2 linked regions of the Homo sapiens genome follow. The protein of the gene in region 1 purifies or fractionates together with the protein of each later gene. This does not show direct contact. Each region holds a gene or a part of one and is shown on either strand. Other genes may lie near its edges.

What was found.
Region 2: the proteins of CDH4 (region 1) and SPSB4 purify together in Homo sapiens (co-immunoprecipitation; one large-scale study listed by IntAct). This does not show direct contact.

The regions. Positions count from the first base shown.
Region 1 is NC_000020.11:61,926,691-61,931,654, forward strand, and holds part of CDH4 (cadherin-4 isoform 1 preproprotein), read left to right. Parts: intron 1-1,499; coding exon 1,500-1,733; intron 1,734-2,918; coding exon 2,919-3,152; intron 3,153-4,964. UniProt on the Homo sapiens protein: Cadherins are calcium-dependent cell adhesion proteins. They preferentially interact with themselves in a homophilic manner in connecting cells; cadherins may thus contribute to the sorting of heterogeneous cell types.
Region 2 is NC_000003.12:141,054,347-141,057,846, forward strand, and holds part of SPSB4 (SPRY domain-containing SOCS box protein 4), read left to right. Parts: intron 1-3,500. UniProt on the Homo sapiens protein: Substrate recognition component of a SCF-like ECS (Elongin BC-CUL2/5-SOCS-box protein) E3 ubiquitin-protein ligase complex which mediates the ubiquitination and subsequent proteasomal degradation of target proteins.

The sequences.
Region 1 (4,964 bases):
TGAAACCCCGTCTTTACTAAAAAAATACAAAAATTAGCTAGGCATGGTGGTGCACGCCTGTAATCCCAGCTATTCGGGAGGCTGAGGCAGGAGAATCACTTGAACCTGGGAGGCAGAGGTTGCAGTGAGCCAAGATCGCCCCATTGAACTCAAGCCTGGGCAATAGAGTGAGACTCCATCTCAAAAAAGAAAAAAAAGAAAGAAAGTGATTGTGAGGCCGCAGCTGGAACATCGGAGCGTCCATCGCACGTGGCAGACGCCGTGTGAGGGAGCCGGGGTGCACAGGCTGGAGCAGGAGCCCCCCGGTTAACAGAACCTGTCTGTGCTTCTCCGATCACGTGCCGTGCCATCAGCTACATCTCAAAGCAGTTTTCAAAGGTAGCGCCGCGCTGCGTCACCTTAAATGTGTTTTGACGCAGCTTCCGGAAGATTAAAGAGACATCCGTGGGATACATTTTTACATGGTTCGCCTGCCTCAGTCAAAACACGTGGTTGTTAACGTCAGGTCAGGAGCTGCCATCAGGAGCAAAGCTACAGTCAGAACATGCCGCCACCACCGCCGCCTCCAAGCCTGGAGAGCAGACAGGGCATCTCTCTGTCCCCAGATTCCAGCCACCTGGCCTGCATCCTGGGCTGAGGCAAGGACTGAGCATGTGAAGACCCCAGGGACAGGGATGGCCCCTGAGGAGCTCTGGGGGCTCGGCAGAGCACCTCCGTTCATGCTGAAGCCAGAGGTCATCGGGTCCTCCAAGGAGACCTCCTGCCGGGCCAGGAGGGAGCTTCCATCAAAGCTCATCTGGAGCGGCCGCGCCTGCTTTTCTCACAGACACTTCCAAAAGCAGCAGTTCTTCCACGCGATCATGCGTCTGGGCTCAGGGCTTCCAGCACCCTGGGGCTCTGCTGGGCAGGGCCAGCAAAACTCAGGGAGGCAAGGAAAGGTTTTGCCCTAAGAAGTCCCAGATGGGGGCAAGATGTGGTGGGCGGATCCCAGCCCTCAGGGGCCAGTGCAGAGCCCAGCACCCGCAGAACCCCTCCCTGGCTCCCCAGTGGGAGTGAGTCCCCGGTGCGTGGCTGTGACCTCCGTGGCTGTGAGTTTCCACGTGAATGCCACACCCCGCTGTGTGCGTGTGTGCAGGTGTGGGTGTGGCCGTGTGCTCTGCCGTGTCTGTTGAGGTGCCGTGCGCAGTGGCTGTGTGCGTGTGTGCAGCTGCGGGTGTGGGTGTGGCCGTGTGCTTTGCCGTGTCTGTTGAGGTGCCGTACGCAGTGGTGTGGCTGCCCATGGCGTGTGGCAGGGTGTCGGTCAGGAGCCATGGCTGGACTGTGGGTCAGTCCCTGTGCAGCTGTGTTGGGAGATGGCCGGCCGTGTCCGGCTGGGGGTCTGCACATGTGTCCCTGTGTATGTTGCACGTGGTTGTTTGTGTGCGTGTCCTGTGTGGAGCTGTGGGTTGGTCATGGAGTACCAGGAGTGGCCCGTGTGGTGACCTGTGTCTGTTCCACAGGGATACCCCCGGCCAGCGGCACCGGGACCCTCCAGATCTATCTCATTGACATCAACGACAACGCCCCTGAGCTGCTGCCCAAGGAGGCGCAGATCTGCGAGAAGCCCAACCTGAACGCCATCAACATCACGGCGGCCGACGCTGACGTCGACCCCAACATCGGCCCCTACGTCTTCGAGCTGCCCTTTGTCCCGGCGGCCGTGCGGAAGAACTGGACCATCACCCGCCTGAACGGTGAGCCCGCCTTAGGCCACGGGGAGGGTCAGACTAGCCTGGGGTGCAGGCCCCTGGGAGACCCAGCTGGCCTTGGAAGAGTGGGCACCAGAGGTGGGTGACAGTCCTCCAACAGGACTGTCCCACCAAGGCTGGGGACACTGGCCACGCTTCAGCTGCTCAGCCTCCTTCACCTGGCCTTGAGGAGGCCACCAAGTCATTCCCAATTTCTTGCTGCTTTAATGAGGCCAGCCGTGAACATCCTTGCAGCTCTGCCCATGTACATCCATGACAACTTCCTGTGCCGGTTGTCAGTTGACTGGACCCTGACTGATATGTTTCCTTAGAATACTTCCCTGGATGCAGATCTGTGGTATAAAAGGATATCAAAATTCTCAAGTTTTGGCAGTACTGTGAAAATGTGCTCTAAACATGTCTACTTCCATCGGGAGAGTGCCTGTTTGTTTCCTCAAACCCCACCAACACTGAACATTATTGTTTTAAAATAATATTTTATTCTGCCACCTTTAGGCCAAAGTCATTATTTCCATTTGTATATCCTGATTACCAGTGGAAATTTTTTATATATATTTATTGGCCATTTTTGTTTCTTCTGTGAATTGTCTGTTCAATGACTTTGCCTATGTTTTCTTTGGGGAGTTTCTTTTTATTGATTTGGTAAAACTCTTTATATATTCAGGAAATTATTTCTTCATCCTACATGTTGCAATTGCTTTTTGGTTGTGTCTCCAATGTCTTTTTTTTTTTGAGACTGTTGCCCAGGCAGAAGTGCAGTGGCACAATCTCAGCTCTGCAACTCCACCTCCCAGGTTCAAGCAATTCTCCCACCTCAGGCTCCCAAGTAGCTGAGATCACAGGCTTGCACCACACGCCCGGCTAATTTTTGTATTTTTTACTAGAGACAGGGTTTTGCCATGTTGGCCAGGCTGGTCGTGAACTCCTGACTTCAAGTGATCTGCCCACCTCAGCCTCCCAAAGTGCTGGGATTACAAGCGTGAGCCACCACACCCAACCTCCAATGTCTTTTAACTTAATGATGTAGCACAGGTGTATGTATGTATGTGTGGTAACCAGGCAGCCATTTCAGATTTCCATGCCATCGGACTTTTAGTCTTTTCCTTTGGACGTCTTGCTTGGAAGCGAGGGCCGGGCTCTGGTTGAATGTTTACTGTTGCTTTGCACCAGGTGACTATGCCCAACTCAGCTTGCGCATCCTGTACCTGGAGGCCGGGATGTATGACGTCCCCATCATCGTCACAGACTCTGGAAACCCTCCCCTGTCCAACACGTCCATCATCAAAGTCAAGGTGTGCCCATGTGATGACAACGGGGACTGCACCACCATTGGCGCAGTGGCAGCGGCTGGTCTGGGCACCGGTGCCATCGTGGCCATCCTCATCTGCATCCTCATCCTGCTGAGTGAGTGTGGCTGAGCACCAGGGTGGGCAGGGGCATTGTGGGTATGAGTGCCCTGTCCCAGGCATGGTGGGCAGAGGGGGGCCTGGATTTGCCCCTCAGCCCTCATCTCTCAGCCTCATCTGTCAGGAGCCTTTCAGAAATGCAGCTGAACTGGTCCATATGACAATGGGAAATTGGAGCCTCCCGTTACTCTCAAGTCTGGAGGTGCAGGCCGGCCCAGGTGTCTCCCATGGCCTGGCCCCTTTCCACGGCTCCACTCTGCCTCCCAGAGCCCCTGTGTCCTGAAGCTGTTGCCCTCCAGGACCTGTGACGCCTGTGGGCAGCTCCCAGGTGGACTTAGCAGAGGGAAGGTCAGCCCTGCCTGTTAGCGTCCCCATCCAAAGTCCCAGGACACTCTCTGATTGGACTGGCTTGGGTCACATGCACACCTTGGAGCCAATCACCAGCCAAGCAATGGAGTGTTCTCACTGGCTCTGCCCAGATCACATGCTCTAGTAGTTTCTTGAGTTTCCCACAACCACTGTGGGTTCCCAACAGGTCTGAGGGCTGGCGGGGGGGCGGTGCCAGGGGAGGTGCTTGAAAATGACCCCAGAGGTCCCTCTTCCCATCATCCCTCATGGACAGTCACCGTGGTCTGTGATACCCCAGGGATCCCAGTGGGAGGCAGGGCGGGGAAGGGTTGGGCTACCACCTCCCCAGTTCACACCCAAACCACAGGGTCCCCCACCACGTCCAGAACAGGCGGCAGGCCCCTCCTGCAGACCTGGCCTGCGGCTGACTTGAGACCCCAGGGACCAACCTGAGCCCTGTCCAAAGGATGTCTGAGTTATGAGGACTCTGCTTTTTTCCCCATTTCCAGACCTATCACCCCTTGAAAAGCCGGTTTTCATTTCTGAGGCTTGTTTTGAAAGCCGTTCAGTGTCGTGGGCTTCTTTGTATGATCAGGAGTGGAAAGAGCCCCACAGAGGTTGGGAGGTGTCTCTGTAGCAAAGGTGGAGGCATTCTCACCGATGTCCCCTGCTCTGGAAACACCGGGGGCCAGGCCCCAGCCAGAGCACCCTCTGTGGGCAGGGCTGTGAGACCCAATTCAGCTGAGTGCCTGGCCCGTGCAGGAGACCTGGGCCACTCTCGAGGGCAGCCGCAGTGGAGGGCATCCGCAGTGGGGCCGGGGCCACGGTCAACAGCAGATCCGCCTGCTGCCCGGCTTCTGCCCAGTCGTGGGCACCTCAGCCCTGGTGGGGTGCATGGGGGGCACCCGGAGTGGCCTCCCCTCCTCCACACTCCTCCTCTCAACCCTCGCTCATCTTGTCTGCCTGGATGAGCCTGGGATGCCAGCTGTGAGAGTGGAGCTGACCTCTTCAAAGGTTCTTGGCCTTGTGGCTTCCGTCGAGCCAAGACTAGGCCCGGGCTCCAGGCTCCAGGTTCTCACGGAGCTGCACCTGCAGTGCGTGGCTCCTCCCTCCGCCTGCACTTCCCTCTCCACGATCTGGGCCAGGTCAGGAAGCGTCCCCCGGCTGTCACCTCACCCTCTGCAGGCAGGGCGATGCCGCCAATACCCACAGAGCTCCTCCCAAGCCTCCACTCCGCTTCGGAATCCTCCTCACGACATCAGGCAGCCACAGCCAATTAATCGGGTTGGCAAAAAACAGCCCTCCTGACTGGGGGGTCGCCGCCCCTCTCGCCTCCGGGCTCACCCTCTGCGGTACATAAGAGTGCACCTGTGATTCTGGGCCTCAGTCGTTACATCTGTGACATGGGAGGTGACGGGAGGCTTCAGGAGGATGCAGTGGAGTGGTTTGTGCAGGCATTTAC
Region 2 (3,500 bases), on another chromosome or scaffold:
ATAGTATGTACTCTTGATTTATGTGAACATGACCATCTGTGGTAAGAAAAGATCAACTATAAAAAATTTTTAAACCAGCAACACGTTTTTAATAAAACATGGTTCCTACATAAGCCAACTAATTTATTTGCTGCTGATCAGTTCAAGAAATAGGGATTTGTTTTGAGGCTATAGGAAAAACAGTTGTGGGTGGTGTGCCCTTTGGGAAAGAGGTGGTATACCTCAAACCAGTTATCATGAACTTTGTGTGGAACTTTAGAAGAACTTTCCTAAGCAGTGTTGATTGCATGTGATTTTTGCTTCACACATTGAGTTCAGAACTTACTCCATTTAAAATGTATACGTGTGGTGGTTCATGCCCGTAATCCCAGCACTTTGGGAGGCCGAGGCGGGGGGATCGCAAGGTCAGGAGATCGAGACTATCCTGGCTAACACAGTGAAACCCCGTCTCTACTAAAAATACAAAAAATTAGCCCGGCGTGGCGGCTTGCGCCTGTAGTCCCAGCTGCTGGGGAGGCTGAGGCAGGAGAATGGCATGAACCTGGGACGCAGAGCTTGCAGTGAGCCGAGATGGCACCACTGCACTCCAGCCTGGGCAACAGAGCGAGACTCCGTCTCAAAAAAAAAAAAAAAATGCAAACCATGCAGGAGGTATAGAGTGGCTAGTCCTTCTTCAGTCTGACAAGCACGTCTTAATGCAGCCAGAGGTAACAGGTACAAGGCTGTGTACGAGTATTGGAGATAAAGGCTGGTTGGGCACTGGCTCCATTAAGAAATGCAGATGTGGTGCAAGAGATAGCAGCAGGAATCAACAGCTAAGATGAAGACAAAGTGGGTTGGAGGGCAGAGGGTGCAGTGGGACGTAGGCAAGAGGACATAATGGGGCGGAGGGAAGAGGATGTAGTGGGCTGAGGGGCTGCCACGGAGGGGTGCCCAGTTCTGCTTCTGCTAGAAGGGGCAGGGGAGTGAGAGAATGTCAGCCAGGTCAGAGAAGATGGGAAGAGTCCCAGGATGTGCTGACGAGGAGAGTCTGGCATGACTGGTCTGAGGTGGGCCGTGATGACAGACAGTGTGGAAGAAATAAGAGCAGCCTGGAGGGCCCCTGGGTGCCAAGCAAAGAGGTGCAGCTTCTCTCTGGAGAAGCTGCCTGGAGGGTTGAATGAAGAGATTGGTGGGTGTCTTGGTCCAACTTACCTGTTGGCAGCATGGAGAGTGGGTTGGCGGGCAAACAGTGGAGTCAGGGAAGCCTGCTAAGAGACCAGTGGAGTAATCCAGGCAAGTTCTGAACTAGGGGAAAGCTGACGGGGTTGAGTGGTGGGGACCAAGAGACGGGATCCATGGCAGGAACAGTGACATGCAGAGGAACCTGGCATGTGAGAGAGGGAAGAGGCCAGGCTCAGCCTAGGACCTGCAGATTCCGAGGTGCACATGGACCACAGATGTCCCGCAGGGCTGAGAGTGTGGGTGTGCCCATGGTAGGAGGCTTATGATGGAAAGAGGTCAGCTGGCCTTACAAGGTCATTTGAAACAACACCCAGGCAGGGCTGACCAGGGGCTTCTAGTAGGTAGGTCTTGTGCTGAGGAGAGAAGGCAGCACTGGAGACCCGGCTTGAGAGTGTCTGCACGGGGCTGGAGATGCAGGTCATAAGAGAAGATGCATGGAGAGAGAGAGTGAAAAGCGGAAACTGAAGTTGAAGCAATGGACTTGGGGGTGCCCCATTGATGGGGTAGGCAGGAAGACATTGGAGCCAGGAGGAGGCAGGAAAGCTGCTGTGGTAAGCTCTACACTTCAATGTGCTGGTATGTGTGGTGGGAGACGCTGGAGCAGTGCCAAAGTCATCCATCTGACCTTTAATGTTGTGAAATGTCATGTATGGTGAACTGGAGCTCTGCTTTCTCCAGAAGTGAGTGGGCCTTGGCCCGGTTTACTGGCCACAGAGACATTCTACCTGTTATCTACCTTCAGGAGACATCTACCTGTTATCTGCATTCTATGAAATGTGCAAGTTGTACAGATTCCTGGGGCTGGAGCAGCTCCCTCCCCGATCCTGCTCCCTTTCTCCTCTCTTCCTCTCATCCTCTCTCCTTTCCTCCTTAGTATCTCAAAAATGCCCCCAGAGATACTGTAGGCTTAACAGAGGGATCTTCAGAAATCCCAGCAGGTCCCTATTATGACCTGGCTCAAGCCAGAGGCATGAATAGTTCTGCTTTTCTTTTAGGCATTCTGTTTCCAGACAACCAGTTATACCAAGTGGAGAAGGTTCATCTTGGGAGGTAAATGAGGGATTGGACGCAAACCTTATCATGTTTTCATCATCGTTTTCCCCAGAGGGCTTCATTAAATGGTACCCTTCCCATCTTCTCCCTTCATGCTTTGACCCAGCCCAGACATGCTGGGCCTCAGGGAATCCAGCTGCCCTGCAAACAACCTCCACATGTGCCTGGGGCAGGCCTCTGGGCTCAGGGGCAGCTGTGGTGACCGGGCTGGCCCGGACTGCACGTGGCCTTGCTGTCTCAGTGGTATGTCTCTTTCAAATGACCTTGCAGAGCTTGCTGCCCTGGTCACAGCCTAGCAAACCTCCTTCATCCCATTTGCTGCTCTCCTTGCTGGCTGACAGCCCAGCTTGCACCTTGGGGGCCCCTGGCTCAGTCACGCGTGGGAGGATTCCCATGGAAACCCCAGGAGGAGGAGAGGCTCAGGGAAGCCTCATTGATTCTCGCTCCAGGAAAACAGGCGTGAGATGATTCCACCTGGAACTGGACAGATGGCTCTCTTTGTGAGCTCTTGGGGAAGAAAGGGCTTGCCCAGCCAGTTGTAGCCTGAGCTCCATGTGTGTATAGCAGGGAAAAGCTAATGAATGCCTATGAACAAAACCTTGGGGGTTCTTTAGTTCATTCATTGTTGGTGGGTTCATTCTGAATGAGCATCTTTAATAAAACAGCCTCCCTACTTAATATTTGCACAAGAAAAATCTTAAAAACATTCCAGTTAAACTAAGGTCAGGCACCTATCATTGGTACCTTTGCACAGAGTCAAAAATTGAAAAATAAAGACATGAAATAAATAGTCTGAGCTCACAGTGCTCTGCATTCCCAGTTCATTCTTAAGTGTTGGTTCTTTCTAAGGCAGTGTATTGCTTTTCTTCATTTGTTCGTGCTCGTGCATTCCATAGACGTTCACCCACCACTTTCTCTAAGCCAGGTCCATGGGGACTCTGATGAGGGACACCCGGCCCCTGCTCCCAAGTTGCCCCAGTCCGATGGGAGGGAGGCAGCCAAAGAGACATCATGTCCCCTTGTGATAAGAGCTGTGGTGGGCACAAGTACAAGGGCTCTGAGAGCACAGGGGGCTGGGGAGCTCCCCAGAGGCACTAATATCTAATATCCTGAAAGCCTCAGAGAACCTGTCGAGGATTTTGAGCAGGAGCGTGATTAGATCAACTGTGTACTTTTACAAGTGCAGTAGTATATATTTGAAAGTAATATGCAGTCTATAAAGG